Linked DNA regions of Homo sapiens. The protein of the gene in region 2 purifies or fractionates together with the protein of the main gene of each other region. This does not show direct contact. Each region holds a gene or a part of one and is shown on either strand. Other genes may lie near its edges. The genes, in order: AP2A2, NECAP2, AAK1, PHOSPHO1, GLOD4, TES and BMP2K.

Evidence for each region.
Region 1: the proteins of NECAP2 (region 2) and AP2A2 purify together in Homo sapiens (affinity purification with mass spectrometry; 4 studies listed by BioGRID and IntAct, with this or other methods). This does not show direct contact.
Region 3: the proteins of NECAP2 (region 2) and AAK1 purify together in Homo sapiens (affinity purification with mass spectrometry; one large-scale study listed by BioGRID and IntAct). This does not show direct contact.
Region 4: the proteins of NECAP2 (region 2) and PHOSPHO1 purify together in Homo sapiens (affinity purification with mass spectrometry; one large-scale study listed by BioGRID and IntAct). This does not show direct contact.
Region 5: the proteins of NECAP2 (region 2) and GLOD4 purify together in Homo sapiens (affinity purification with mass spectrometry; one large-scale study listed by BioGRID and IntAct). This does not show direct contact.
Region 6: the proteins of NECAP2 (region 2) and TES purify together in Homo sapiens (affinity purification with mass spectrometry; 3 studies listed by BioGRID and IntAct, with this or other methods). This does not show direct contact.
Region 7: the proteins of NECAP2 (region 2) and BMP2K purify together in Homo sapiens (affinity purification with mass spectrometry; one large-scale study listed by BioGRID and IntAct). This does not show direct contact.

What each region holds. Positions count from the first base shown.
Region 1 is NC_000011.10:1,004,717-1,009,304, forward strand, and holds part of AP2A2 (AP-2 complex subunit alpha-2), read left to right. Parts: intron 1-1,811; coding exon 1,812-1,901; intron 1,902-3,295; coding exon 3,296-3,419; intron 3,420-4,383; coding exon 4,384-4,500; intron 4,501-4,588. UniProt on the Homo sapiens protein: Component of the adaptor protein complex 2 (AP-2). Adaptor protein complexes function in protein transport via transport vesicles in different membrane traffic pathways.
Region 2 is NC_000001.11:16,457,129-16,461,136, forward strand, and holds the end of NECAP2 (adaptin ear-binding coat-associated protein 2), read left to right. Parts: intron 1-1,713; coding exon 1,714-1,762; coding exon of another isoform or gene 1,763-1,868; 3' UTR 1,869-2,950; downstream 2,951-4,008. UniProt on the Homo sapiens protein: Involved in endocytosis.
Region 3 is NC_000002.12:69,458,134-69,462,786, reverse strand, and holds part of AAK1 (AP2-associated protein kinase 1), read left to right. Parts: 3' UTR 1-1,075; coding exon of another isoform or gene 1,076-1,120; 3' UTR 1,121-4,653.
Region 4 is NC_000017.11:49,227,988-49,231,950, reverse strand, and holds the start of PHOSPHO1 (phosphoethanolamine/phosphocholine phosphatase), read left to right. Parts: upstream 1-1,163; 5' UTR 1,164-1,483; intron 1,484-3,963. UniProt on the Homo sapiens protein: Phosphatase that has a high activity toward phosphoethanolamine (PEA) and phosphocholine (PCho). Involved in the generation of inorganic phosphate for bone mineralization.
Region 5 is NC_000017.11:761,414-765,791, reverse strand, and holds part of GLOD4 (glyoxalase domain-containing protein 4), read left to right. Parts: intron 1-1,952; coding exon of another isoform or gene 1,953-2,102; exon of another isoform or gene 2,103-2,230; intron 2,231-4,378.
Region 6 is NC_000007.14:116,213,094-116,217,746, forward strand, and holds part of TES (testin), read left to right. Parts: intron 1-4,653. UniProt on the Homo sapiens protein: Scaffold protein that may play a role in cell adhesion, cell spreading and in the reorganization of the actin cytoskeleton. Plays a role in the regulation of cell proliferation. May act as a tumor suppressor. Inhibits tumor cell growth.
Region 7 is NC_000004.12:78,869,603-78,874,255, forward strand, and holds part of BMP2K (BMP-2-inducible protein kinase), read left to right. Parts: intron 1-1,180; coding exon 1,181-1,458; intron 1,459-2,247; coding exon 2,248-2,346; intron 2,347-3,011; coding exon 3,012-3,196; intron 3,197-4,653. UniProt on the Homo sapiens protein: May be involved in osteoblast differentiation.

The DNA.
Region 1 (4,588 bases), on a different chromosome or scaffold from region 2:
AGTGAGCTGAGATCTTGCCACTGCACTGCAGCCTGGGCAACAGAGCGAGACCCTGTCGTTCATTCATTCATTCATAAATAATGCATACATCATTATTTATGTATGCATAAATAACCAAAAAGGAAAAAGAGTGTCTGCAGGGCGTGGTGACGTTGGAGCCTTGTACGCCGCTGGTGGGAATGTACAGTAGTGCGGGCACTGTGGGAAGTTCCTCAGAACACAAAAGAAGATGGAATTACTCTGTGACCCAGCAGTTCCACGTCTGGGTACAGACCCCAGAGAATTGAAAGCTGGGTCTTAAAGAGGTACCTGTCCACCCATGTCCAATGGCAGCACTATTCACAATCACCGAAAGTTAGAAACAGCCCAGATGTTCATGGGTGGATGCCTAATTAAACGAAATGTGGTCTGTCGACGCAGTGGAATATTATTCAGCCATCAAACGGCAGAAAGGAATGAAATTCTGATGCATAAAGCAGCACACATGCACCTTGAGGACATGGTGCTCAGTGACACGGGCCAGACACCTGGACAAATCCTGTGTGGCTCCACTCATGCGGTCCCTAGAGCAGTGACTTCGTAGAGACAGAACGTAGCTGGGGGATGCCAGGGCCTAGGCCAGGGGGATGGGGAATTGGTGTTTAATGGGGACAGAGTTCCGTTTGGGAAGATGAGAACGTTCTGGAGATGGTGGTGGTGGCAGCAGCTGCACAGTGTGGATGCACTTCCTGTGCCCTTGTGTGCACCTAAATATGGCTAGGAAGGTGAATGTTAGTGTATTTTACCACAATTTAGGAGAAAGACATAAAAAAGCCTTTGAGTGTAAAAAAATGCTGTGCACGGAACCCTGTGGCTGCAGGGGCCCTGGCTGCGGACCTGCCTCCTCTCAGCGCCTGCCTTGAGCCTCCTCAGGACTGCTCTCTCTCTCATCTGTGAAAAACACAGAAAGAATGTGAAAAAAGAGAATTAGTCCTCTGCCCGCCAGGGGTCTGTTAGAAAAGTGAGGGTTGTCAGAGTGATTCCTGTGGGAAACGCTGCATTGAAAACAGGTGGTGCCTTTAGTCCTGGTTTAAGTTTTTAAGCTCTGGGCCGTGATAGCTTCACGAGGTGTTGGTTTTGGGTTTTTAAATTGTGGGAGGAGTGATGCCAAACTGTTTACTGTTTTCAAAATATTTGAGATTTCCTTTCTGAATTCAAGGGGTATACAGATGTTCACAAAGATTTTTTACTGTGATATAAATAAAAACAGCGACACATCCTAAATGTGCACCTGTGCCGTGGCTGAGCCGCTGCAGTGAGGGCTAGTGTGCAACACCGATGCTGTGCTGGACGCGTGCCCAGCCGGGTCCCCTGACAGGAGGCAGCCGGGGCCGGTGCGTGTGTTTGCATGTTGCAGTCATGGGGCGGGGCCGGCAGAGGCCTGTGTGATTGTGGCGTCCCTGGAAAAGATGCTTGGCAGGCCCCTCCAGCTGTAGCCCAGCCTGCAGACGGGGCGTTCTGTGGGTCCTTCCCCGTGCATATGCGTGTGATCTCACCCATCCCGTGTGGGTGCGCAGGAGGGGCCGAGGGAGGAGGGTGCTGGAGGGCGGAAGTTACCTCTGACTGGAGGAGATACCCGGCCCGTGTTACCAGCACTGGTGTGCTCGTTCTAAAACTGGAAAAAATTTGTTCTTAATTTTAACAACAGTCATACATCACAACAGTGAACTTAAATTCAGCTGAAGATTGTGGGGGGCTCTTGTTTTTCAGGGTAAATATTCAGGGTAAGTGTGAAATGGTGTGTGTGAAAAAATTGTTTTTGTTCCTTCTAGGTCGGATGTTTATCTTTTATGGTAATAAGACCTCCACGCAGTTCCTAAACTTTACCCCAACACTAATCTGTTCAGACGACCTTCAGCCTAATATCCTTGGCTTCATTGCCCCATGCCCGCAGACAGCATAATGTGGGGCTTAGAGGAGGCTTTTGAGGAAGTTTTTTGGTTTTCTTATTTTGTTAAAATAGCGAGATAATTCCAGATGCTATATGAAAATCAGGCAGTCGTAATCTGCCTATGGTGCTGGGCAGGAGAAGGAAAACAGGCAGTCTTCCATATTGGAGAGCCAGCTTTTGATCATGCACCTAAAAATACCGTGTACATGCCTCCTCCCCTTCCATCTGGCCAGTGTGAGTCCCTTTCCTTTTCACCTGCTCTTACTCTCCTGTGACGTGATCTTTAAACCCCTCCTCTCCGAAGCCTCACAGAGCTGCTGCTTGCAGAGTGTGGGAGGCGCCAGTGGGGACTGGAGCGCGGTGCGCACCCCAGCCGAGCTTGTGTGTGCTTCTGGCAGAGCTTTTAGACTGAAGATTTTCCCTTCGTAATGCCAGAAGCGTTCCTAGAACTTCCCCAGCTAAAACAGGGAGACGCTAACGTCTCTACCTCTAAGGATAGGCCCGCCAAATAGAGTTAGCGTGAAGACCCCAGCTTGACCAGAGATGGTGACACCTGGGGATTTATGGTCAGCGACCTGAGTGAAGCAACATCCTCCTTGCCACTGGCTGGTCTGTTCATTTTAACATGAACATGTTTTAATGCAGACTGTTCAAGCTGTTTCAAAACAGTCATTAAAAATACACATGCAGGAGCACCTGTATTAAAGACTTTGTTTGGAATCTGGAGTGGAAGCTCTGACTCCTACTGCGCCCTTCTTTAGGGGTCTCTCCCTCGGGGTCCACTTGGCTCGAGGCGGCAGCGAGCCCAGCAGCTGAGTGGCCGGCGGCACACGACCCAGAGGGAAGGAGAGGCCTGCACCCCGCTGCCTCCTGGACCCAGCTTTGCTGCTGTCACTGTTTCTTCAGGAGAGGCTGTAGGCAAACCCTTGTTTTCCAGCATGAAAACAACCCTGGTCCCAGCAGGGCAGGCTCTTTTCTGTGTCTCGCTGTTTCAGGAGCCTGCTATTCCTGGGATTCTTAAAGTTTTCCTGCCCTACTAAGCACCAGTTTCTGCTAACGGTGACAAAAATTGTGTGTGTAAGACCCAGAGCCGAGGCTCAGAGTGAAAACAGACAAGTAGTATATAATCTAAGTGACTTTTTAAAATGGAGGAGCCATTCTGGAAGCGTGAGAAGCAGACAGTGTTTTGAGGATTGTCTGGGTGGAAGGGCAGGGCCGGGTGGTGTGGCTGCCCTCGACCCGTAGCTGGTGGTCCTAGAGTGTGGTGAGTGTGCTCGCCTCCACGGGTCCTGCTGGGGCTCTAGCCCGGCCCGTTTCCGCTTCTGCCACTGGGACTTGCTCAGCTGGATTCCTTAACGCACGCACACCTGAACCTGCAGACCAAGCCCGTGGACCCGACCGTGGAGGGGGGCGCGCAGGTGCAGCAGGTGGTCAACATAGAGTGCGTGTCCGACTTCACGGAGGCGCCAGTCCTCAACATTCAGTTCAGGTAAGAGCCGCCTGTGCGCCCCGGGCCAAGGGGTGTGTGGGCGCCTGAGCTGTGTGCCTGGGCTCCATGACTGTGCCTCCGTGTCCTTCCTGAGGGGACCCGGGGCGTGCGGGTGCTCACGGTGCATGGATGCGGCCTGAGCTATTGCTGCCCCCGGCTCTGCAGAGCGCAGGAAACAAGGGGAGGCGGAGCCCTGGGCTCCGGGACGGCAGGTGGCAGCTCCCACATGGGGCCTTGCTAGGATCTTTCTGGGCACCATGGGGCCCACCTCATGGGGTGGCAGACAGCCAGGGCCCCCGCGCCACCTGCCCGGCTTGGTACCAGACGACAGCTGTGGGGTGCAGGCAGCTGGTTTCCTTCGGCCCCCTGGCCTGGGGGGCGCGTTTTTTGCTCAGTTGAGCTCAGATCGTACCACTTTGCTTATTTTTTAAAAGCATAGGATTTTCCTGTTGCGACTGTTCATTACTCTCACTTTTCAGTGACTACAAATAGCGTGGATACAGTCAGCCCGTCCCCTGCTGGGTGTCTGCAAGGTTAGGAATGTTGAGAAAAGCACACTTTCTAACATTAAAAAGACAGAGAACTTAAGATTGTATACTGTAGAATTCGGGGACATAGACATGCAAGTTTTTGTTTCATTCTTTGTGCAAATGCCTTTGCCTTTTTAAAGAAAAAACATCACACTATTTGCACAGACTTGGAGTTCTGGGAAACAGATGAATGGGGAGAAGTGAGGCACAGGGACGTCCTGCCTGAGTATGCGGCCCTGGCCTGTCCTCCTGTCTGTGGGTGACACTGGACACTGAGCCACACACGATCCGTGGGGACTGAAGGCTCGGCCCCCCGACCCGCTCTGGTGGGTGGCAGTAGATCGGGACGCTTCTCACTCCAGGCTCTTTCCCGGTCCCTGGGGCTCTCAGAGGAGTAGCTGACTGTCTCTTTCTGCTGCTGCTGCTGCTGGCAGGTATGGGGGCACCTTCCAGAACGTGTCTGTGCAGCTGCCCATCACTCTCAACAAATTCTTCCAGCCGACAGAAATGGCTTCTCAGGATTTCTTTCAACGTTGGAAGCAGTTGAGCAAGTGAGAAACCTGTTTCCTGTAGGGGTCAGGGGTGGGGACGGGGCTCATTTGAAAAGGTGGGTTTTGGTCTCTGGCCTGGCTGAGAACA
Region 2 (4,008 bases):
ATGGCTGTGTGCCAGTAAAATTTTATTTACAAAAATAGAGGCATGGGCTGGGCGCGGTGGCTCATGCCTGTAATCCCAGCACTTTGGGATTCCCAGGCAGGCGGATCACCTGAGGTCAGGAGTTCAAGACCAGCCTGGCCAACATGGTCAAACCCCATCTCTACTAAATACACAAAAATTAGTTGGGCGTGGTGGGGTGGTGCCTGTAATCCCAGCTACTTGGGAGGCTGAGGCACGAGAATTGCTTGAACCCGGGAGATTGCAGTCAGCTGACATCATGCCACTCTAGTCCAGCCTGGGTCACAAGAGCAAGACTCCATCTCAAAAAACAAATAAACAAACAAAAAAAACAGAGGCGTGAAATGAGGACTGTAACCCTTTTCCTGTTTGCCCTGAGAAAACTTGCCAGTGGCACTTCAGACTGCAGCGTTGACCCTGAGATAACTTTGCCACAAAATGTATTGCTTTTATATTATTTTTGCATCGCTCTAGTATATCAGCTTTGGAACAAAAGACATTCTATTTATAGCATTCTGTTTTTAATAGTGGTATTTCCATTTACAAAATATAGTAATTCTGTTTTTTTTTTTTTTTTTTTTTTGAGACAAGGTTTCACTCTGGTTGCCTAGGCTGGAGTGCAGTGGCGTGATGTCGGCTCACTGCATCCTTGACCTTCCAGGCTCAGGTGATTATCCCTTAGCCTCCTGAGTAGCTGGGACTACAGGCAATTGCCACCACACCCGGCTAATTTTTTGTATTTTTAGTAGAGGCGGGGTTTTGCTATGTTGCCCAGGCTGGTCTGGAACTCCTGGAATCCAGCAGTCCGCCTACCTCAGCCTCCCAGAGTGCTGGGATTACAGGCGTGAACTACCATGCCTGGCCCAAAATATAGTAATTATTGATTACTGAAAAAGTCAAATCCTAGAAAACGCAGCATTCTTACATGTGATGTTAACATCGTTCTTGAACAGTTTTTAGCCTAAGATTCATTTGAGGAGTCTGATTTTTCCAAAATAGTTCTGATTATTCAGATGATTCTGAAATAACTCCAAGAACAGTTTTTATATTTTATTTTCACGTTGAAAATCAGTCAGATTTGCTTCAGCCTCAAAGAGCATGTTTATGTAAAATTAAATGAGGGCTGGCAGTGAGCTATATTTTTTCTACATGGGAAAGGGGTTAAGACTCTTCGGCCAGGCATGTTGGCTCACGCCTGTAATCCCAGCACTTTGGGAGGCCAAAGCAGGCAGATCACTTGAGGCCAGGAGTTCGAGACCAGCCTGGGCAACATGGCAAAACCCTGTGTCTACTAAAAGAAATACAAAAATTAACCGGTCATGTAGTTCCAGCTACTAGGGAGGCTGAGGTAGGAGGATCGCTTGAGCTCAAGAGGTTGAGGCTATAGTTGGCCTTGAGTGTGCCACTGCATTCCAGCCTGGGCGACAGTGAGACCCTGTCTCAAAAAAAAAACAAAACAAAAAACAAAACCACAAACAAAAAACTTTGGTAAATACAGTTACATTAACTATTTAAAAAAAAAAAACCATCGAGGGCCAGATTTGGTCTCTGTGCCAGAGTTTGCTGACTGCTGCTCTAGAACATTTAGGAACTGGCTTCTTAGAGCTTTTTCTGTCCAGAGAGAAACCAACTTTTATCTGCTTTGTATTTTCAAAGATCTGAACTCCCCCACCCTTCCCTGTCTTCTCTTTACAGATCAACTTCCAGCCAGACCCAGCCAGGCACAGGCTGGGTCCAGTTCTGACCTGAGCACGGTTTTTCCTCATGTGACTTCTGGGAAGGCGCTCCCTCATCTGGGCCAAAGGAAGGAGGACGAAGCCCTCCTCAGCTGGCCTGTGTTTGGGGCATGAATCTCTCCTCTCCTCCTTGTCTGGCTCTGTTGACAAACCGGGCATGTTTGGCAGTAAATTGGCACCGTGTCACACTGTTTCCTGGGATTCAAGTATGCAACCAGAACACAGGAGAAGAAAAGCTCCAGGATCCCTGTCCCCATCTGTCCTCTTGATGTGAGAGAGACTCTGAGACTTCTTCCATCGCAATGACCTGTATTAAACACAAGCCCCCCAAGCAAAAGAAGAGGTTGAGTTTGCTGCCAGGATTCAGATCAGCCCTTCCCAGGGTCTGCAGGTGTCACATGATCACAGTTCAGCGGGAGGCTTTCCGTACCCACACTGGCTGTAGCCACTTCAGTCCATCTGCCCTCCAGAGGAGGGGTTTCTTCCTGATTTTTAGCAGGTTTAGAGGCTGCAGCTTGAGCTACAATCAGGAGGGAAATTGGAAGGATTAGCAGCTTTTAAAAATGTTTAAATATTTTGCTTTGCTAATGTGCTGATCCGCACTAACTCATCTTTGCAAAAGGAACTGCTCCCTCGGCGTGCCCCAGCTGGGGCCTCTGAAGGGATTCCTCACTGTGGGCAGCTGCCCTGAGCTTCAGGCAGCAGTGTTTATCTCTGGCCAGTTGTCTGGTTTCCATGTATTCTAGGCCAGGTAGGCAACACAGAGCCAAGGCGGGTGCTGGAAGCCAGACGGAACAGTGTTGGGGCAGGAAGGTGGATGCTGTTGTCATGGAGCTGTGGGAGTTGGCACTCTGTCTGCTGGTGGCCCTCTCGGCTCACATGTTCACAGTGCAGCTCCTGGCAGACTTGGGTTTTCTCTTTGGTGGTTTCTAAAGTGCCTTATCTGCAAACAACTTCTTTTCTCCTTCAGGAACTGTGAATGGCTAGAAGAAGGAGCTCAGTAAACTAGAAGTCCAGGGTTGCTTGGTTTACTGGTTTATAAGAAATCTGAAAGCACCTCTGACATTCCTTTTATTAACTCACCTCTCAGTTGAAAGATTTCTTCTTTGAAAGGTCAAGACCGTGAACTGAAAAAAGTGTTGGCCTTTTTGCGGGACCAGATTTTTAAGATAAAATAAATATTTTTACTTCTGTCATTGTATGTGAAAGATGAATGTGTTTCTGGCCGCGTGGCTGTTAAACTCTTCAGGGTGCCACAGCTAGACTCACGGCCACTTCTCTCACCACTGACCAAGTGTCCAGATTGAAAGTTCAGGGCTGGGGTGTGAGGCTGGCCAAAGTGAGGAAATGCAACCTTGTTGTCTAAGGCAATCGGTACCTTCTCTCCTGTGTTCTCTAGGATAGTACAGTCTTTTCATCATCCTTTGGTTGATGTGAAAGTAGTTGCTTGAATCACTTTGTGTGGGGCTTAATTCTCTTGTGGCGTCTCATGATACAGGCCGTTCTAGAGAGCCTGGCCCCTTGCTTTCCGTCTTCCACCAAACCTACCGGCAGAGCATCTCCCTAAGTAGTAAAGGGGTGCAGATACCCAGAGGTCAAAAGTAAAATTAAGAGGCCGGGTGCAGTGGCTCACGCCTGTAATCCCAGCACTTTGAGAGGCCAAGACGGGAGGATCATTTGAGGCTGGGAGTTTGGGACCAGCCTGGGCAACATAGTAAGATGCATTTCTTTCCTTTTTTTTGAGACACAGTCTCAGTCTGTTGCCCTGGCTGGAGTGCAGTGGAGCAATCTTGGTCACTACAACCTCCGCCTCCCAGGTTAAAGTGATTCTCCTACCTCAACCTTTCCAGTAGCTGAGATTACAGGCACCTACCACACCGAGCTAATTTTTGTATTTTTTCAGTAGAGATGGGGTTTCACCATGCTGGCCAGGCTGGTCTCAAACTCCTGACCTCAAGTTATCTGCCCGCCTTGGCCTCCCAAAGTGCTGGGATTATAGGCGTGAGCCACGGCACCCGGCTGTTAGACCCCATTTCTTAAAAAAAAAAAAAAAAAAAAAAATTAGTGTGGTGGTGGTGCATGCTTGGAATCCTAACTACTTGCGAGGCTGAGGTGGGAGAATTGCTTGAGCCCAGGAGTTTGAGGCTGCAGTGAGCTATGATCACGGCCTCGCACTCCAGTCTAGGCAGCAGTGAGACCCTAGAGAATTCTCTAAAAGAATTAAAAATGAAAAAAAGCCACAACACTTCTTTTG
Region 3 (4,653 bases), on a different chromosome or scaffold from region 2:
GATTCTTCCCATGGTCATTATCAAGTGAAGCCCTCAAAAACATGAGCGAAGAGCCTAGAAATACTCAGGGAGATTTCTCACCCCAACTCAGAAATTTTTTTTTTTTTTTTCAAGACGGCGTCTTGCTCTGTCGCTCAGGCGGGAGTGCAGTGGTGTGATCTCGGCTCACTGCAACCTCCATTTTCCGAGTTCAAGCGATTCTGCCTCAGCCTCCCGAGTAGCTGGGATTATAGGCACACACCACCGCGCCTGGCTAATTTTTGTATTCTTAGTAGAGATGGGGTTTCACCATGTTGGCCAGGTTGGTCTTGAACTCTTGACCTTGTGATCCACCCACCTTGGCTTCCCAAAGTGCTAGGATTACAGGCGTGAGCCACCGCACCTGGCCCAGAAATTCTTTTTTTTTTTTTAAATTATTATTATACTTTAAGTTTTAGGGTACATGTGCACAATGTGCAGGTTAGTTACATATGTATACATGTGCCATGCTCGTGTGCTGCACCCACTAACTCGTCATTTAGCATTAGGTATATCTCCTAATGCTATCCCGCCCCCCTCCCCCCACCCCACAACAGTCCCCAGAGTGTGATGTTCCCCTTACTGTGTCCATGTGTTCTCTTTGTTCAATTCCCACCTATGAGTGAGAACATGCGGTGTTTGGTTCAGAAATTCTTAAAGTAAGAGATCATTCTAATTCCCCTTTCCAAATATTCAGGATTATCTCTGTAACAGCCCAGCAAAATGTTTTTCCTTTGGTTATTTGATAATTCCCTTCTAATCAAGTGACTATTTTAATTCTCAAGGTGCAAATCAGGATAAAATCATGGTGATTTTACTACATAGTTGAATACTTCGTCAAGTATGAGCTTGTATCCTTTTTAAATTTTTCACTGGAGGCCAGGCGCGGTGGCTCACGCTTGTAATCCCAGCACTTTGGGAGGCCGAGGTGGGTGGATCACTTGAGGGTAGGAGTTTGAGACCAGCCTGGCCAACATGGTGAAACCCTGTCTCTACCAAAAATACAAAAAGTAGCTGGGCGTGATGGCACGCACCTGTAGTCCCAGTTACTAGGGAGGCTGAGGCAGAATTGCTTGACCCAGGGAGGCAGACTTTGCAGTGAGCCAAGATTGTGTCATTGCACTCCAGCCTGGGCGAGAAGAGCAAAACTCCGCCTCAAAAAAAAAAAAAAAATTGTCACTGGAGACATGATGGGTGGAGACTCTACATACCTTCTTTGAATACAGAAACGGATGCAAACACATGCAAATTACTTTTTTTTTTTTTTTTGGTGATGCATGAAAAAACTTTGACTTGTGGATTACATTAATTATTAGTAACAGTTAGATTCTGCCGACTTGTATTACAGTAGGGTCTTATTTCCTTAAAGAGAAAAAAAAATACAGTCATGCCCCACTTAATGATGAGGGAGACATTCAGAGAAATGCATCCTTAGGTGATTTTGTCATTGTGTGAACATCACAGAGTGTACTTAACACAAACCTAGATGGCACGGCCTACTACCTACCTAGGCTATATGGTCCAGCCTGTTGCTCCTGGGCTACAAACCTGTACAGCATGTTACTGTACTGAATACTGTAGGCAGTTGTAACACAATGGTAAGTATTTCTGTATCCAAACATTTTAGACATAGAAAAGGTACAGTAAAAATATGGTATAATCTTATGGGACCATCATGGTATATGTGGTCCATCATTGATGGAATCGTTTTTATGCAGCACATGACTGTATATAATCAACAAACAACTCTACTTTCTTGTTTTCGTTTGTTGTGTTTTTGCTTTACACATTTGATAGGGAACATAGAAGTTGTGACCTTTCATTTCAGTGGAAAGCATTGAGCCAGAATATATTTATTCCTAAACCATCGAGCCACACATGCATTGATGAACCCTGAAAGAATCCACAGTAATTGACTAACAGGCAGTACTGAATGAAAGATGTCATATGTGGTGAAAAATATTTAATATATCAGTTTCTTGGGCTCACATACAGCCCTTTAGTTCCAAGTGCTTGGTTAGATTAGAAAATGGGATGAACACAATTTGATGCTGAAGCAGCTGCTGAGCAGCACCCAGGGAGTCTAGGTCATACGCCCTATATTGTTTTCGGCCCACTTATTGTTGAGTTGAAAAGTCTCATATTTGTAGACTAGAGTGTATGTGTTTAGAGGCTCATGTTGTATCTGAGTTTTCTCTGGCAACTAAGATCTCTTTCTAAACGTTCTAGAAAGATACTGGTATCTTACTGGCCCATTATTTAGTAAGTTTTAGAATACATGTACATCAGTGTTTTCAACTGCTTGGTGGACATTTCACTGATGCATAATCAAAGTAGCAGATTATAATCATCAGAGTGATCTGACAAGGAAATTCTGTATTTGCTTCCATAAAGAAAAATAATCAAAACATATATCAGATATAATATATATGCAGTATATCACATAGGAAATTTTATTGTAGGAAATTAGAGAAGGATGCTACTCAATTCATTCTCTAGCAGGAAGAATACAGCTTAAAAATCACTTGGGTCCCTTTAATAAAGAAAAGTGTGATTCTGTGTTGTGTGTTTGGAACTGAAATTGGAGAACACGTGCCAGTCGACTGTGAAATGGTTGCTGGATAAAACCACAGATGTGGTTTTATCCGAGAAATGTGGGACTGAAATTATTTTGATGAGAGGTACATAAGAGAGCTGCAGAAAAGACTGTAGCTTCTGAGGAGGCAGGAGTACCTTGTTAATATCCAAACCACCCCTGAGTTCTAATGTTCCAACTCCACCTAAACGAGGAATTGGAAACTTTAAATGGAATTATCTAATTTAAATTCTTAGTTTTTTCTTTGTCTTTCTCAGCTGATACTTGTAGTTTTGTTTTGTTTTTTAACCACCAAGAACACTTGCAAGTTTGTTACTGAAAACATCACTAAAGGAAAAGAAGAGTTTCAAAATGCTTGAAAAGTAGTATGTGGTTGGGAATTGTTTTTGTTCAAGTCCCTGGAAGTCCTCTTGGCTTAGCTCCCTTGTTCCTGTTCCCACTTCATTTCCTTACTTAACATTCCCCTATTTTGAGCATGTCAATAAGTGCATGATGAATGGCACAGTTGAATGATCATGTTAACTTTAATTGCTTCCTTTGTTGCTGTAAACAGTTTCTTGTTAAGTTTCAGCCAAGTCTGTGACAATCTCACCAAATAAGAATGAAATGGGCGGGGTGTGGTGGCTCACACTTGGAATCCCAGCACTCTGGGAGGCTGTGTTGGGCCGATCGCTTGAGCTCATGAGTTCAAGACCAACCTGGGCAACATGGCAAAACCTTGTCTCTACAAAAAATACAAAAATTAGCCAGGCATGGTGGTGCACACCTGTAGTCCCAGCTACTTGGGAGGCTTAGGTGGGAGGATGGCTTGAGCACGGGAGGCAGAGGTTGCACTAAGCCAAGATCGTGTCACTGCACTCCAGCCCAGGCAATAGAGCCAGACCCTGTCTCAAAAAAACAAAACAAACAAAACATGAATGAATGAAATGGCTCACCTTCCCTATTATGAACTAGAAGAAAGGATGAAGGAAGGTTGGCAGGACCCCAGCCTTACTCTGTAGTGACAACCCAGAGGTACTTTTCCCGGAATGCAGGGTCAAGTTTATGTGTGAAGGGACTCTAGAATAGCTGGTAAAAATGGCTACATGGTAACCATTCTTGACTTAGTCCAGTATTCCCATAATTTGTAATTCCATAAATTTATTCTCAGCTGTCCCCCAGCCATTTCTAATAGAAGGATGTGTACCCCAGTTTTGACAATGTTCTTGAAATCAAGTTAGTGTTACCTGCATTGCATTATAATGGAACTATATGTACATGTTAAAGGGATCCGTTTGATTCCTTTCGGCAAGGAATTGCAAAAATAGTTTTTACCAATACCAGTTAAAATAGGATAGGTTAGACTTTGGGGGCAGGGTGAGACAGTGCAGCCTTTTCACTCTGAAATGGCAAATCAGCTGTACTCTTTGAGTCTACCAGAGATTCCTATTTGAGTGTGAATGGGGTGTGTGTGTGTGTGTGTGTGCTCATTCATCTTCATGCTTTCTTCCATGGTGTTAATTCAAGCTCTCCTAATAAAGGTATCCAAAGAGTACTGAGAAGTGACCATAGGTATTTGGCATGAGTAAATGTAGTTCCTTTTGCCAAAAAAACTCTCAAAAGTTACAACTGGAGTTCTTCGCGATAAAAGGTTGGGGAAATCAGCCATGGCTTTAGCCTTGTTCCCAAGTACACATCTTCTTATCCACAAGGATGAAACTCTGTAGGGCTCACCCTGAGGGCTCATGTGTGGCATTGAGAGGGTAGCAGTGACCAGAACACCACAAGGCCCACAAGATGTTTTGAATGAGGGAACATTTAATGTCATTTGTTAGGAGATAGAAACCAAATAATAAAGGACAAGGACCACGCTCATTCCGTGGAGAAGAGGTGAACTCCCTCTGCTGACTATTTGGAATGGACTGAATGAGGAGGTCTCTCCAGCCAGAAGGAGTATTGAGGTCATCAGGCCTCAGAAAACAATGTACACATAATCTCGGGCTGTGAACAAGAGAAAGGAGGGGGGGAAACATGAAAGTCAATCTTAACAATTTTTGCAA
Region 4 (3,963 bases), on a different chromosome or scaffold from region 2:
CCAGCCCTACCAGCTGGGTGACCCCAGACAAGCTCACTCTTTTTTGTTGTTGTTTTATTTTGTTTTGTTTTGAGACAGGGTCTCACTCTTTCGCCTAGGCTAGAGTGTGGTGGTGTGATCACAGTTTACTGCAGCCTTCACCTCCCAGGCTCAAGCTATCCTCCCACCTCAGCCTCCCGAGTAGAGCTGGGACTACAGGTACATGCCACAATGCCTAGCTAATTTCTTAATTTTTTGTAGAGATGGGGTCTCCCTATGTTGTCCAGGCTGGTCTCGAACTCCGGGGCTCAAGCGATCCTCCCACCTTGGCCTCCCAAAGTGCATTCTCCCCACCTACACACCCCTTTGTGACCCAATGGAGTCAGGTGTGTCCGGGTTTGAACGGCTAGGCAAATAATTTCTCGAGTGTTGTGAACATTCAGCCATAAACGCAGCGACCTAGCTCGAATGCCCGGTTCATAGTATGTTCTCAGTAAATACTAGTTTCACGTCTTTCCTCTCGAAACACTATCTTCTCTCCTTCTCTTCACTAGCAGGCTTTGAGGGCCAAAAGGAGGAGATTAGGGTGGGGGAGAAACACACTCTTAGGAAGCAGGGGAGAAAGTGCGTTTTTTATTTATAGGGCCATCTGCAAAAGGGGCAAACTGTCTGTCACCACCCGCTCCACCAACTTTACGGGCGGGGGTGGGGGTAGGGAGTCATTCCTCCCGCCAACCCCCGCAATCCTCAGTAACCTATAATCTGGGGAAAAGGGTCCCGAGGGCTGGGTCATCCCGTGCCTCCCACTGGGTTTAGGACGCGACAGCGGAATGGGCAGGAGGTGGAGGTGCACTTCTGCAAATCTCAAGAACCGAAGCCCTGGAGGCGGCGGATGAGAAAGTCCACAGCCCTAGCAATTTTGGGTGTGTAGGCAGGGATTTAGCGTATGTCCACAGCCGCTCTAGTGAGGGTGCCCCCACCCACGTTCCTCGGAAGGGCAGCGCTCCATCCCCACCCTGCTACCCTTTCCCCGAGAGCCTAATCCCACCTTAGCTGGCGCTCCCGGAGCCTCCGGGGCAGGAGGGAGGCGTGGCCTCGGGCGGCCCGCCCCTTTGATGTGCGCCGGCACCGCTGCGATTGGACAGTCGCTTGTGACGTTGGGGACTGCGGTGGGCTCCGCTGCTGCAGCAGCCGCAGCGCCGGCCGCGGCTCCGGCTCCGGCTCCGGCTCCCGGGCATTTAAAGGGGACGCGGCGGCTGCCCGGGGGGGATGAGGGGCAAGTGGAGGGGACGGCTCAGACGCACATCATCCTCAGTCCCTCGGGACTGGAGGGACTCGTGAGCCGGAGCCCAGAAATCCGGGGGTGGATAAGACACCGCGTCCCCTCCAATTCCCGTAAGCACCCCTTGCTCCATCCTGCGCCCCAATACCTCAGCTAGCCCCCTTCCCCACTTCTTACACTCCAAACTCAGCCGGGACAGACCTCTGCTGCCGCCGCCCCCACGTGAGTCCTGGGCTCCGGGAGATAGGGGAGGGCTGGGGTCCCGGCGCGGGGTGGGGGCTGTGGAGTTTGAAGGCGCTCCTTCACGCGCGTGGCACTGGGGGAGTTCTGGAGCTCAGGAGTGAGTCCCCTTCTCTCTCCTACCCAGGAACATAGTGCTGGGGTATCCCTCCGTCCCCGACTCTGACAAAGCCAAGGAATTGGTGTCCCCTTGCTCCCTGCCACCCACAATACCCCTCCCCGAGCCGCGCACCCCCCGCCCGCATTGGAGCCCAGCGCCCGCCAGCCGGGGGTGCGCCAGAGTGCTGGCTTCCTAGTCACCTCTAAAAATATCTCTCCCCCAACCCTACCGGCAGCTGCCACCTCCCTGCCCCTGCCCCTGCCCCTAGGATCCCCTCCCAGCTTGTCCTCCCACCCAGGGAGTGCCCAGAGGTGACTGCTAGACCCAGACGCCTCACTGGCACCAGGGCGCAGGGCCACCACCGCCAGCTGGTCAGGACCGCAAGCTCCCTGCCCACTGGAGTCTCCAGGGCCAAGGGGGGAGCTCCAGCTGCAATTCTCCCAAGAGGCGCCAGAGACTCCTGAGTTCTAATCGCGGTTCCGATGCTGTGTGACCCCTAGGATGTTAGCCTGACCTCTCTGGGCCTCTGTTTTTCCTATCTGCTGCTCGGGCGTGGTGAGCAAGGAAGATGGTCATGTTTGGGAGCACTGTCTGGGAAAGGGAGGGAATTCTAGCTTAGTTGTTGGATCTGATTTCTAGTGATTGATACAAGGAGACTTGTTTTTGGACAGAGAGGGCTTGTTACTGTGGTCTTTCTGGAGTCCTCGCCTCCCCATCCTCATTCTGCACATTTCCTTTGGAAAACTATCCCAAAACTTTTCTAGGAACTCCATCTGCCCAGTAAGAGGGGAATTTGAAACTTAGGGCCTGTATCAGAGAGGGGCCTGTTTCCCTCCCACCCCCTTCCCACAGATTTAATCTAAGAGCATTTGTGTGAAAGGCGGGAGAAGCAGGCAGGGATCTGTGACCCGGTGCAGAATTAAGGAGGCAGGCACTGCTTTTAGGTGGGACTAGAATATGGACTCCCTGCAACCCCCCAGAAGCCCTTCTCCCTGCTCTGGCCTGTGAGAGAAGCTCAGATCCTGCCCCCTACTCTGAGGGACTCTGTTTGGTGACCACAAAAGGATTTGATGACTCAGAACAAAGGTGTCAGAGGTGAGAGACCTTTTGGAGCATCACAGGAGCCAAATTCCAACTGGGGAAGGGGTTCCTCTGACTCCTGTGGGGTGGGGACGAGGTGTCACAGCATGGCCTTCTCAGTTTTCTGGGGAAGAAACCCAAGATGCCTGACTTTCTGCCTTGGAGACTGAAAGAAACAAGGGCAACTCACCAAACAATAAGTGTTTAACTGAATCCCCTAGATACTATTATTAGCAGAAAAATGTAACTGTATTTTATGATGAGAAATGAGGAGTTTTGTGTGTGTGTGTGTGTGTGTGTGTGTGTTGGGGATGGGGTTACTCCCTCTGTCACCCAGGCTGGAGTGCAGTGGTACCATTACAGCTCACTGCAACCTCTGTCTCCTGGGTTTAAGTGATCCTCGTGCCTCAGCCTCCCAAGTAGCTGGGACTATGGGCACAAGCTACCATACCCAGCTAATTTTTTTTTTTTTTTTTTTTTTTGAGACGGAGTCTCGCTGTCGCCCAGGCTGGAATGCAATGGCGCAATCTCGGCTCACTGCAAGTTCCGCCTCCCGGGTTCACGCCATTCTCCTGCCTCAGCCTCCCGAGTAGCTGGGACTACAGGCGCCCGCCACCACACCCAGCTAATTTTTTGTATTTTTAGTAGAGACAGGGTTTCACCATGTTAGCCAGGATGGTCTCGATCTTCTGACCTCGTGATTCGCCTGCCTCGGCCTCCCAAAGTGCTGGGATTACAGGCATGAGCCACCACGCCCGGCCTTAATTTTTGTTTTTAAAGAGACAGGGTTTTGCCATGTCACCCAGTCTGGTCTCAAACTCCTAGACTTAAGTGATCTGCCTGCCTCGCCTCCCAAAGTGTTGGGATTACAGGCTTAAGCCACCCTGCCTGGCTGAAAAAATGAGAAGTTTTGACCATAATTAATGATCAATAGAATAGAAAAAAGGAAGGAAGGAAGGAAGGAAGGAAGGAGGAAGGAAGGAAGGAAGGAAGGAAGGAAGGAAGGAAGGAAGGAAGGAAGGAGAGAGACAGGAAGGAAGGAAGGGCAAAGTAATGAGACCCTTCTCTATAGGATGAAAGCTGGTCTCTGGGTAGCTGTTGGTGACCCCTTGGAATCTTTGTATCTACCCCTTGCTTCTCCAGATGCTGCATGTTTGCTTTTACAAGGGGAGTGGCATCCCTGACCTTTCTCTTATAAATCGCCTGGCTGAGGTTGGACATGTGATATCAGCTGGGAATCTGGAAGGTTGGAAGTCCCTCCAGATAGGGACTGGGGACAGCT
Region 5 (4,378 bases), on a different chromosome or scaffold from region 2:
TTTTTAGTAGAGATGGGGTTTCACCATGTTGGTCAGGCTGGTTGAGTAGGCCGGGTGCGGTGGCTCACACCTGTAACCCCAGCCCTTTGGGAGGCCGAGGCGGGCGGATCACAAGGTCAGGAGATCGAGACCATCCTGGCTAACACGGTGAAACCCTGTCTCTTGAACTCCTGACCTCAGGTGATCCACCCTCCTCGGCCTCCCAAAGGGCTGGGATTATAGGCGTGAGCCACTGCGCCTGGCCATCCTACCATTTTCATCTTCCTGACAGTTTCTCCTCAGACACGGGCACCTCTTTCTGTGTCTCATCCCAAAGTGTTTTTATACCCATAGCCCTACTTTGCTGTTTTTCCCATTCTGCATTCTTCCTCCACTCTGATGAGAGCTTACCTGCGACCTCTCCTTACCTCTGCCCTGAACGTAACCATCATCCTGGCTCCAGCCTCCTCACTTCCAGTTTTTAACTCCTTCCTCAGCTCAGACAGGTGGTTGTTGTTGATGAGGCATAATTTAGGTAGAATTTAAATGTGTTTTGACGGTTGTGTTTACTCATACAACCACTACTCAGAATACAGACCATTTTCCCAGGAAGTTCCCTCATGCCCATCTCCAGTGAGTTGGCACCTTCATCTCCCAGATCAGCTGCTATTCTGACTTCTGTCACTGTAGGTGAGTTCGTTCTTGGACTTCATACAAATGGAGTCATTCAGTATTTTCTTTCCTTTTGTGCCTGGCTGCTTTTACTCACCATGGCTTTTTTTGTTTTTTGTTTTTTGTTTTTTTTTGAGACGGAGTCTCGCTCTGTCACCCAGGCTGGAGTGCAGTGGTACAATCTCTGCTCACTGCAAGCTCCGCCTCCCGGGTTCACGCCATTCTCCTGCCTCAGCCTACCGAGTAGCTGGGACTACAGGCACCTGCCACCTCGCCCGGCTAATTTTTTGTATTTTTAGTAGAGACGGGTTTCACCGTGTTAGCCAGGATGGTCTCGATCTCCTGACCTTGTGATCCACCCACCTTGGCCTCCCAAAGGGCTGGGATTACAGGTGTGAGCCACCGCGCCCGGCCTACTCAACATGGTTTTGAGATTCCACCATGTAATTGCATATCACAGCTCTTTTTTTTTTAATTGCTGACTGATACTCAATTTTATGAATATAACAATTTGCTCATTCATTCTTATAATGGTGGACATTTGGTTTATTTCTAGATTTTTTAATCTATTATAAGGAAGACTGCCATGAACATTCTAGTGTAAATCTTCTTGTAGATAGATGTTTCATTTCTCTTGAGTAAATACCTAGGAGTAGAACTGCTTTTACTGTATAAGAAAGTGTCAAACAGTCATCGAAAGTGATCGGACCATCGTTTGTCCACGAGAGGTCCAGTAGGTCTACATTCTCACCAACACTTATTTTGCTTTTTGTGGGTTTTTTAGCTATTCTAGCACATGCGAAATGGTTTCATTGGTGCAATCAAGCGATCCTTCTGCCTCAGCCACCACATAGCTAGGGCTGCAGCACTATGCCCAGCTGATGTTTTTTATGTTTGTAGAGACAGATTCTCACTGTGTTGCCCAGGCTGGCCTCCAGTGATCCTTCCAGCTCGGCCCCACAGAGGTTTAATTTTTATTTCCCTGATGACTAATGATATTGAGCACCTTCTCATGTGCTTATTAGCCATTTACTTATTTTTGTGAATTTTATGTTCAAGTCTTTTGTCCATTCTTTAATAATTTTTAATATTTCATGATGAAAATTCCAAATATGCACAACCGAAGAGAGTACGACAGAGCCTTACGTGACTCTTACCTTGACTCTGTACTGTAGTTTTTCATCATTCCTTCGTCACTTGCAAATTCAAGTATTTTTCCCAGCCATTAATTGAGTTTTTGAAGATGAGGAATTTTTTATTTTGGTGAAGTCCAGCTTATGAACTTTTTCTCTTACATGTAGCACTTTCTCTGTCCAGACCGATGTTATATCCTGAGAACCTCTTCACCTAGGAAACCTACCACATATCAGACTCAGCGTGTCCATAACTTATCTTACCTCAAATCCATTCTTCTTCCAGTAATATTACATAAAGGCTACTTGGGAGTGTAGATTCTGGGAAACCTGAATCTATGTTCCCGGGCTGCAGTCTTCAAGCTTGGCCCAGATGAACTCTCTATTTATACTAAAAATATGTAAATAAATAAAAATAAAAAGAAATAAATGCTACTATATCGGTACGTTCTTAAGTGCTTTATTTTTATTTATTTATTTATTTTTTGAGATGGAGCCTCACTCTGTTGCCCAGGCTAGAGTGCAGTGGTGTGATCTCAGCTCACTGCAGCCTCCGCCTCCCAGGTTCAAGTGATTCTCCTGCCTCAGGAGAGTAGCTGGGATTCCCGAGTAGCTGGGATTACAGGCACCCGCCACCATGTCCAGCTAATTTTTGTATTTTTAGTAGAGACAGGGTTTCACCATTTTGGCTAGGCTGGTCTCGAACTCTTGACCTCAGGTGATCCACCTGCCTCAGCCTCCCAAAGTGCTGGGATTACAGATGTGAGCCACCGCATCCAACCTTAAGTGCTTCATATACATTCTCTGATTTTTTTTTTTTTTTTTTAGACGGAGTCTCGCTCTGTCGCCCAGGCTGGAGTGCAGTGGCGTGATCTCGGCTCACGGCAAGCTCCGCCTCCCGGGTTCACACCATTCTCCTGCCTCAGCCTCAGCCTCCCGAGTAGCTGGGACTACAGGCGCCCACCACCACACCTGGCTAATTTTTTTGTATTTTTAGTAGAGACGGGGTTTCACCGTGTTAGCCAGGATGGTCTCGATCTCCTGACCTCGTGATCCGCCTGCCTCGGCCTCCCAAAGTGTTGGGATTACAGGCGTGAGCCACCGCGCCCAGCCACATTCTCTGATTCTTAATATAACCTGCAAGGTTGATAGCATCAGCCTTTGCAAATGAGGAAACCGAGGCTAAGAATGAGTAAGTCATTGGCCCTCACCCTTGAATACCATACACTGAGTAAGTGGCAGGCAGGGGCCTGGATGGTGATGAAATTATTCCCCTTCATCCCTGAAGATCACGCACTGAGTAGGTGCAGGCCGGGGCCTGGATGGTGATGAAATTATTCCCCTTCATCCCTGAAGATCACACACTGAGTAGGTGCAGGCAGGGGCCTGGATGGTGATGAAATAATTATTCCCCTTCATCCCTGAAGATCACGCACTGAGTAGGTGCCGGCCGGGGCCTGGATGGTGATGAAATTATTCCCCTTCATCCCTGAAGATCACGCACTGAGTAGGTGCCGGCCGGGGCCTGGATGGTGATGAAATTATTCCCCTTCATCCCTGAAGATCACGCACTGAGTAGGTGCAGGCCGGGGCCTGGATGGAAGCCTTTCAGGCTTTACAGTTAGTCCTTTTTCTTCCTCTGCGCCCTGCTCCCTCCCTGGACAGTACAGCGTGTCTGTGATCCCAGTTGTTCACGCTGGAATCCTCAGAGCCAGTTTTGGTGTTATTTTGTTGTGTTTTGTTTTTTAACATTTAATAGTCGTTTTAGATTTACAGACAGTCACTTTTGACCATTATTTCTCCTCATCCTTAAATTATTTTAGCTATTAGTCACCAAGAGCTGTGAGTTCTACCTCTGAAATGTCTTCTGCCTATCAGCTTTCCCTTTGAAAGGCCTCATTGTCAACTTACGGTCTGTCCCAAAGCAAACAGCCAGTAATTTTTAAAACCGTTTAATCCGATAGCTCTCTCTTGCCTCTGAGATAAATTTCAAACTCTCTGACAGAGCATGTGACATTTTTGGACATTCTCTACCCTCTGACCTTCTTTCCCACCTGCCTCCCTAAGTCCCCTAACTCATCCCTATTCCAGTCCCACTGAACTGGTTATATTAGCTAAGATACTTCTTCTTGCATCCAACCCAAAGGGTTTTTTCCCTCTCCTCTTTTACTTGTCCTTCAACACTTAAAAGCTTTCTTAGGTTCAGCCGGGCGCGATGGCTCACCCCTGTAATCCCAGCACCTTGGGGGACCAAGGCGGGTGGCTCACCTGAGGTCAGGAGTCCCAGACCAGCCTGACCAACATGGTGAAACCCTGTCTCTACTAAACACAAAAAATTAGCCAGGCACGGTGGTGTACGCCTGTAATCCCAGCTACTTGGGAGGCTGAGGCAGGAGAATCACTTGAACCCAGAAGGCAGAGGTTGCAGTGAGCCGAGATGGCGCCGTTGCACTCCAGCCTGGGCGACAAGAGCAAAACTCCATTTCAAAAAAGAAAAAAAGCTTTCTTAGGTTCTCCAAATAATTTAGTTGTTCTTTCCTCCCACTTTTTATGGCTCCTAAAAGACAGAAACGTGCATATTTGTGACTTGTGGT
Region 6 (4,653 bases), on a different chromosome or scaffold from region 2:
GAATGTATTTCACAATCTTAGCCATACTCTCAAAAAGAAATTTATGTTCCTTTTAGCAATTGTTTTCTAACACGTCCAAAGAAGGAAATATTACAAGACTATCTGATTTACCAGCAGAGTCCTCACCCTATTTTGGTACCTAGTTTTCAAGTCTCCTTTCTTTTTGACTCAGTTATTCAAGAAAATTTATAGTTTGAATGTACCTTGAGAAAAGGAAGATTAAAAGTTGGAACAAAGATACAACCATTTAAATACAACTAATATGACTTCTGTTTTAAGATGTATGACATTTTTTCCTTCTAAAACTTTTACATTGTTGATTTCATGAGGAATTTCTTCCAGACAGATGAAAAGCATCATTGTTCCACATTAACATTTCATGTAAAAAGAATTAAGGAGGACTGTCTTTATTAAACAGTGATTGAGATAGATGATACTATTATAAAATTCTTGGTTTGTAAAAGGAAAGCTCGTCCACATCAGTTGTACAAATTGGGATTAATTACCAGTTAAAACCCACCATCACAAAGACAAGGGGTTTTTATAATTAGATTTTGCTATATTTTGTTTTGTTTGAAGAAAGCGAGCTGTTGCTAGGATGTGGGAGCTAGTTTGGTTATACAAAGTTTTTGTTTTAATAATACTTTAGAACAGAATTGATTCTATGTCCTTGCCCTGTCTTCTGAGTTACACATCTAGACCTCTTTCTTATTTTTTAAGTCTCATCTTAATTGGCTTTGTGTCAGTATGGTCCATGTCTGCTTGGGAAAAACAGTGGACTTTGAGAAGCAGAAACAGTCTCATTTTGCGGTGAATGGTAAATCATGGCCAACAGCCAGCTGTTTTCCTCTTTCCTTTCTGTGTTACTCTCCCATGAGAAATATTTTTTTTCAATTAAGAACATACCAACAGAGAAAGAGAACTACAATAATTTCCCTTTTACTGCCTGGAATTGCTGCAGGGCTTTTTCATTTTACCGTGTTCATTTTTTCTCTCCTCTAACCCCTTTATTTTGATTAATCCTAATATTTTGCATACTTTTCTTAAGACTCTTATTTCTTTAATTTTACTTTTTAAAAATATGATGCATTTTAAAGATTACATGTTACTAAAAATCCCCTTTCTCTGTATCCAAACTTGTTTTCAAAACCTTTGTCATTAGCCAAAAAAGCATAGTGAAACCAAATGAATACTATTGGAAAAAGGACTAAACTACAAAGATTATTTCCATTGGAAATTAGAATGAGTTATTTGCCTTAGGTAGCCCCTGGTTGAAGTGGAAAAGGCAATATATGGTGACCTGGATGCTCAAATCTACAATTGCATTCCAGGCTTGAAGCCATTCTTGCTGCAAGAACCATTGGCAAGACTAAGGGTAAAGGTAGGGCAAGGCACATCCAGGGCTTTGCTTTAGAGGTGTTCTGCCTCTCTGAACAAGTGCAGAAGAAAATGAGTGGTCCTCGGCCAGGCTTTTATAAAACTATTCTAACCCATGGTGTGATTCATTACATTGGTAGAATATGAAAAGTCCCTTTCTCTTAATTGTCCTGAATATTGGTTGGAGAAAAAAACTATAGTAGGTTTTCTATTGATTCTGTTCCTTTATGCTGTCCTATGAAGTAGAAATAGGAATTTATATTGCTACTGGCTATTACCTATGTCCCATCAACTCACCCTATGACTTTGCTTGTGCATGCCCATACTCCATCTACAGTTCTAAATTTTTTCCATCCTTCAAGGACCAACCCTTCACACTGCACACTCCTCTAGGAAATCTTTCTCCATGCTGCCACCTAGATGAAAAATATTTTCTCCTTTTCTCCTGAATTCCCAAAACATGTTATTGGTAACACTTAGGACACTAATCACTCTCCACCTCTGGATTATACTTATCTGTTGTATGTTTCACCTTCTTACCTTGCTTACAAACTTCTTGAGAGATGAATCCATATCCTGTTACACTTACGTGGTTATTTTGTTTGCTGTTCAAAGCAACCTTAGGAAGTAGGCCTTAGCCCCATTTTCAGGATGAAGAAACTAAAAGTTTAGATAGCGTAATCTGAAACCTTACTATAGAGAACTTTACTATGAACTTGAACCATAATTTGAAGAATCCATGCTGCTTCCATCATGCCAACTAGGCCGAGTCTTATATTCTTCATCTTGCTCACTAAATATATGTGGAATGATAACTGTTATAAAAAGAGAAATAAAATAAGGTACATTTCAACACTTTCACTCATTTTTTAAAGGAATTATATTTGAGGAAGTGGTTTATATTCCAATAAAATCACCATCCTGCTAGTTTTCTATATTTTGTTTCTACTTTGTCCATGTTGTATGTATTCCCTTTAGTGTAAGTTGCCATTGACATTCTTTGGGCAGAGGCAAAGTATACGAAAAGTAAAAGTATTGTGAAAAGGAGTTTCTGGGAAACTTCTACAGTCAAAGAAATAGCATAAACTCCAATAATATTCTGTACCTTATCTTCTAAGATTCTCCCAACTTCCTGACTTTTGGTGTGAGCCAATGGTAATGCTGTCTCCTAACTATGTAAAATGGCCCTAGGTAACAGTGACCCTGTATTTGGCTCTTTGTTTTGTTAAGTTTAACCAATGGCATCTGGAACTATAAAGGGATGCTCGTGGTCTTTTCTCGTGTTGAGCTCTGCAGTTGAGAGAAAGCCTTACACATAGCATGAGTAGGCTAAACCTCTTTTCCCTTGTAGCAAAGTGTTCAGAGTGCCTCTGGAGTGGCAGACCAGACAGCTAAGAATGGAGCAGCTAAAAAGAAACAAAAAACAAACAAAAAACCTCTTAATATTGGGAGAACTATTTTTTTGTTTTAATTTCCCATTCTTCATGCAAAAACATTTCTTATGAAGCTGAGAAGCTGTGGGAAACACCAAAATGATCAGATATTTCATGAGGCTCTCATGGAGCTCCAGAGTGACATCCAGCATTGTTAGCATGCGATCAACATCATAGACCATCAGTGTGCAACACGAGTTACCAAGAGGGGCTTTCTTAGTGGAAAGAGAGTGATAAATTGGTAACATGGAAGCTACTTCCTGTGTTCTTTTTCTGAGAACTAGAAGAAGGAATACAAGTTGGCCCCATGCTAATGTGTATATACCTTTTTTACATACCAATCACTAGTGTGTTTAGAAATTAGGAAAGGTCAGTAAGTCTCCAGTATATATAAACATCTATAGTGTATGGAAAGGTCTTCCATAGTGTATCCGTTTTCTCACTTCCATTTATCAGTATAATATATTTAAAATTGCCCTAAGCTGAGAGTTGGTAGATCCGAGTCCACTATTTTTTGTGATATTAACCACTTTGGCTATCAATTTCTATTTATATAAAAATCAGTAGGGGAACCAGATGATTTCTGAGGTTTCTCCAAGTCCTGTGACTCTTTGATCGTGGGAAATAATATCAGTAGTCTACCATGTGTAATGTTCCACAGTGCTTTAAAATCACACAAATGAAGAACATATATGTATAAATATATACATAAAGGAGATGGCATAGTTTAAATGTTAGTGAATTCCATGAAGAACCTATAGATTGAACCAAATAATTTTTTTCCACAAATCTTAGCTATTTTCAACTTGTTTGTACTTAATTTTCATAATATTTGTGGAGGTATTTGAAGATATTAGGTTAAGTTTAATTAATTTAAATCTGTAGTATAAGGCTCTGAAGGCTGTAATAGTGTGGGTCCCATAAGTCTAGGAGTGATGTATTACTTACCTTGGTATTTAATTATGGGAAAATGAAAAATAATGGAACATTTATTTTCTTTAAAAGTTATCTCTCTCAAAATAAGGCTGTTAAAATAATTTTAAAAGATTAAAAAAAAACTATATGAGTGCTTTTTTACGTACCATGCACTGTTCTAGACTCTGGGGTTATAGTTGTGAACAAGAATGACACTGAACTTAAGCTTGTATCATAGAATTATGCTATTGCAAGTGTTGATAGAGCAATGTAAATATTGAAAGTAAGCACAACTGGAATTATACCCGTCAGTGAACTCTTGATAGGTTAGCAGTACGCTATGTTTCTAACACAGACAGTGAGCAATTTTGATGGTGATCCCTGGGCTTGATTCTTGGTTTTGCAAACTTTGTAATTAGGGATTCTTATTTCATTTGTCTTAAGTAATAGCAAATGTAAAAGATGGGAAAATGAGAAAGCAGCTTTTATGTATTAGAATGTGAAAAAGATTATGAATGCATAAAGCTATACAAATAGACTTACACCTATAATATACACAAACTATAAGTCTTCTCCCTGCCTACAAATGCCTTACAAAAGAGTCATTCTTGGATTTCCTGTTTGCAGTCATAGCTAATTTTTGTTTGGTAACTACTGCCATGGTAACCAAAATTATGATTTTAAAAGAATTGTTTATTAAATCATTAATATACAGGAAATTATTTTACTTTTTACAAGGTGGTGGTATCCAGAGAAATTATATTATTAATTATGAAATCAACTTTTTCTAGGAGAGGAAGATAAGGAAACAAAAGACTAATCAAAAACATTGCAAAACTGCAGATTTTCAGGATTTTAAAGAAAAATAATTTGGTAATTGATAACTTCACTACTGTTCTTTGAGTAAATATCCATGTTTAAAATTTGC
Region 7 (4,653 bases), on a different chromosome or scaffold from region 2:
ATGTATCAAAACATCAATATGTACTCCATGAATATGTACAATTATTATTTGCCAATTAAAAAATAAAAATTTTCAAGGTGAATGATTTTTGAGTAGTTATTTTAGTACTCTTTCAACTGGAAAGAAATACACTTAAAGGCTAATGATGGTTGTATCTGTGTGGTGGAATTGTGATTTTCATTTTTTAACTTACATTTTTATAAGTATTTTCAAGGATAATTAAAATGAACATGCATTTCCTTATAATTAGAAAAGTTAGAAATAGTTATAAAACTATTTTCATAAAGCTGTTGTACTTAGGTCTGAGGACGTTTGAGGATACTAACATTGATGAAAAAAGAACCCTTCTCTCCCTCCTTGCATTCTCTCCCCACTCTTTTTATCTTCTAGGATTGAACAGTTGCATTTGAATGTAGGGTAAGTTTATTAGAGGAGAATATAGAAATTATGGTATATTAGTATATTGCATTAAGTGTATATCTTACTTTTTAGTTAATTTTTAAAGTTTATTCATAGGATTTGCCTAGGGTATAATTTATGGAGCTTATAAATAAATATCCATTTAGGAGACAGTGTTAATAGATCCATTACAGTGAGCATTTATTAATCATCTTTTGTATAAAAGGTTTTTTGGGACTCTTAACAGATGAGTAAGTCATCATCTCTTCCCTCAGGGTCCCTGGTTAGGAAATAGCCATGTAAGTCATTAACATGTGCAAGACAGACTGAAATGTAATAAACTGAGTGGAAGTGCTAGATGAAGGAATAAGGAAGAGAGGTTTGAGCTAAACTTTAAAGAATAAGAATTTCACTAGGTGGAAAGTGGCATTCTAGACAGAGAATTATATTGGTACTAATACATACTCATGATAGTACATGATATTGTTGAGCAGTGTAGAACAAACTAACATGGATGTTGTGTTCATGGAGAGCCGAAGTATGAAACATGAAGTGTTTCTAAGATGTTGACTTGTTCAGAGTTGTAGACGACAAAATTAAGCTTCTTCGGTACTTACAATTAAAGTAAATCCCTATAAACTCTATGCATATGGAAGTTTTTGTGTTATAAATAAGGATATAAATGCCTTAGTTAAATTATTATTGAAATGAGCATGTTGAAATCCAGCTTTTTAATTGAAATCATTAGTATGTTAATGTAAGTGTTTGGACCTGTCTTTAGGGGCACTAAGACCTGGAAATGGCCCTGAAATTTTATTGGGTCAGGGACCTCCTCAGCAGCCGCCACAGCAGCATAGAGTACTCCAGCAACTACAGCAGGGAGATTGGAGATTACAGCAACTCCATTTACAGCATCGTCATCCTCACCAGCAGCAGCAGCAGCAGCAGCAGCAACAGCAACAGCAGCAGCAGCAACAGCAACAGCAGCAGCAGCAGCAGCAGCAGCAGCACCACCACCACCACCACCACCACCTACTTCAAGATGCTTATATGCAGCAGGTAATTTTTTTGTTTCTTTAGATATGGAAGTAGTGTGAAATTGATGCAGCAAATTGAATATCAGTGAATTCCTTTTTGTATCATGGGCACCTTGAACTCTAGATTTGAGTAAACACTTTCCCCAATTTTCTAATTATGAAAGAATACGTATTTAATTTGCAATCAGTGAAATACTTAAGAATACTGTAAAATAGGTTGCATTGTGGCCTTATGAAGAAAAGAATGTTCATCTGAAACATTTAGTATTCACAAATAAGCACTGCAGTTTATAATGAATATTATCTGAGGTTACGTTTTGAGTTCACAGACTAATAATGCTATTGTTGGAAAGGTGATATTAGGCTTTTCAGAAGTAACATTGTCTTAGATTTTTGTCACCCTCCTGGTTTTGGTTGATAGATCCAGAGTGGAGGGTAGTAAGTAGGTGGTACCATGGGATGCCCAGAAGACACCACTGAAGGGGAGATTTAGTGTAATGGGGCTTGGTTAGAAGTCACTCAGGTGTCTTTATCTTCTAGGAAAAGGTAGTAAATGTGTTTTGGTAGCTTTCTTCTAAACATCCTTAAATTGTGCTAAAAATGGTTTTAATTGAATCTAATTGTTGATAATTTTGAAACCAGTTCTGATAAGCATATTTATTAATAAATTATAGTAATTTAGAGTATAGCTATTTTGTATTGATGTTTGGACTACTGATTTCTCAAATCATTATGGTAAGATCAATACTTTAAAAAAGGGCTCTGACACAAAAAAGGCATAACATTTATTAATTTGATTTTCTCGTTGTAGTATCAACATGCAACACAGCAGCAACAGATGCTTCAACAACAATTTTTAATGCATTCGGTATATCAACCACAACCTTCTGCATCACAGTATCCTACAATGGTAACTTAAATAATTTCTAGAGATTTCTCTGAGTATACATTATGGTGTTGGAATTCACAGTATGAATCATATTATTCAGAATTTAGTAATTCAAAATCAAGTAAGTTAATTGACATGTATTTTATCAAAGCCAGTCATATATTCTCAAGCAGCTTTAAATTGCACTGAACTATGGCACCTGAATATGGCACATAGTAATTGACCGATAACGTACTTCTCTTATGTCATTATATAAGGGAAATGATGTCTTACCTATAGTCTTTCGTCACATGTCTCTTTCATTCAGCACATATCTATTGAGTAAAAAAATGAAACCCAAAGGGAGAGTATATTTTCTTCAGAGAATAATTTGACCTTTTTTTTTTTTTTTTTTTTTTTTTTAACAGCAACCACTATATTAGTGACTTTAAGCTACTCTTTTTCTTAAAATACTTAAAAGAGGATTTTTGATTCTGGCCAAGTGAGCCTACCTTTACAACTTTTTAAAAAGATTTATTTCATCTTGCTGTAGTTTTCTAGTAATAGAGCTGCTTCTGTAGATGATTGTTTTTTACGTTTCTGATTTTGTCACCAATGTGAAAGGAAGGAACATAGTAAATAGATGCAGTGCTGACAGTGCTTTAGGACTGGAGCATTGTTTTGTATAATATCATTTCTTTTTTCAGATGCCGCAGTATCAGCAGGCTTTCTTTCAACAGCAGATGCTAGCTCAACATCAGCCGTCTCAACAACAGGCATCACCTGAATATCTTACCTCCCCTCAAGAGTTCTCACCAGCCTTAGTTTCCTACACTTCATCACTTCCAGCTCAGGTTGGAACCATAATGGACTCCTCCTATAGTGCCAATAGGCAAGTATTTTTCCAGTGAAAGCAAAGGAAATTATTGTGGAAGTGGAAGTCATCGTTGAATGGTCGGTCATTAAGTTCTCTTAAATTAGTTTAGAATTTATCTTTCTGTAGAGCCACCCATTCTCTCTTCCTAGTCCTGTCTTCTGGTCCCTTGGCATCCCCATCCTTCCGTTTCCTCAGTTAATTCTGCTAACTGCTATTTGTAGGTAAGGTGTAGCAACATCTAACAGCATTTAGGGCTAAGGATATTATTGGCTTGTATGTAAAGGCATTTTTGGTAATGTAAGTATAAACAACACCCTAACAAGTGACTTCAGCAGTTAAAAAAAAATCCTTGTAGACTTTCTCTATTTACATGTTATTACCTTTGATTAATTTTACTGTTTACTCATAAAGGTTGTATAATTTAATTTAAATAGGTATAAACATTTTTACATATATGTATTTTAAGATGATATATAGTATACATACTGTTACCGTAACATAGTTGGTAATAGTATATTTTGGCTATTGAGACATATTGGTTAGTAGCGTTATAAATTAAATAACTTTGGTACAAAATTTCTTAAACTTATACAAAATGGCACGTGCTTTAGCATCTTGTAACTAAGAATCATCATCAATGCCTCCTAATGTTTTTAGATACCTAGGAGGTAGGAGCTGTTAGACTTCTGTTACATGAACACTGAAGTTCTCATACAATGCTGTTTAAGGATTTGAAACATTAGCTGAGAAAAGGTGTCTATAAGCTTTGGCTCAGAGTTGAGCAGGAGAAACAGCAGCATCAGTAGCATACTTGTACACTGCATCTCAAAAGAGAGCTAAAGTATGCAGTTTGCTATAGAATGCCTCCCAACCTCTGTGTGTGTGTGTGTGTGTGTGTGTGTGTGTGTGTGTGTGTGTGTGTATGCATGCATGCATGTGTGTGCACATGTGCAAGAGACAGATGGTGGGGCGGGTATGGTAGAGAGGGAGACAGAAACGAATGGATTTCTTGAACTACTTTTCTAAAGTAAGAATTGGGGTGGATGAATTAGGACAATTTTGTCTAAGGAGAGAGCAGAGTATAGGTCAAAGGCCAGTTTAAAGGTCCAGATCAGGCAGGGTGCGGTGGCTCATGCCTGTAATCCAAGCACTTTGGGTGACCAGGGCAGGCGGATCACGAGGTCAGGAGATCAAGACCATCCTAGCCAACATGGTGAAACCTCATCTCTACTAAAAATATAAAAATTATCTAGGTGTGGTGGTGCGCGCCTGTAATCCCAGCTACTTGGGAGGCTGAGGCAGGAGAATGGCTTGAACTTGGGAGGCAGAGATTGCAGCGAGCTGAGATCATGCCACTGCACTCCAGCCTGGCAACAGAGCGAGACTCCATCTCACACACACACACACACACACACACAAAAAGTTCAGATCAGTATTTGCCGAACTCTTTGTCATTTATCTACTCTAGTTAA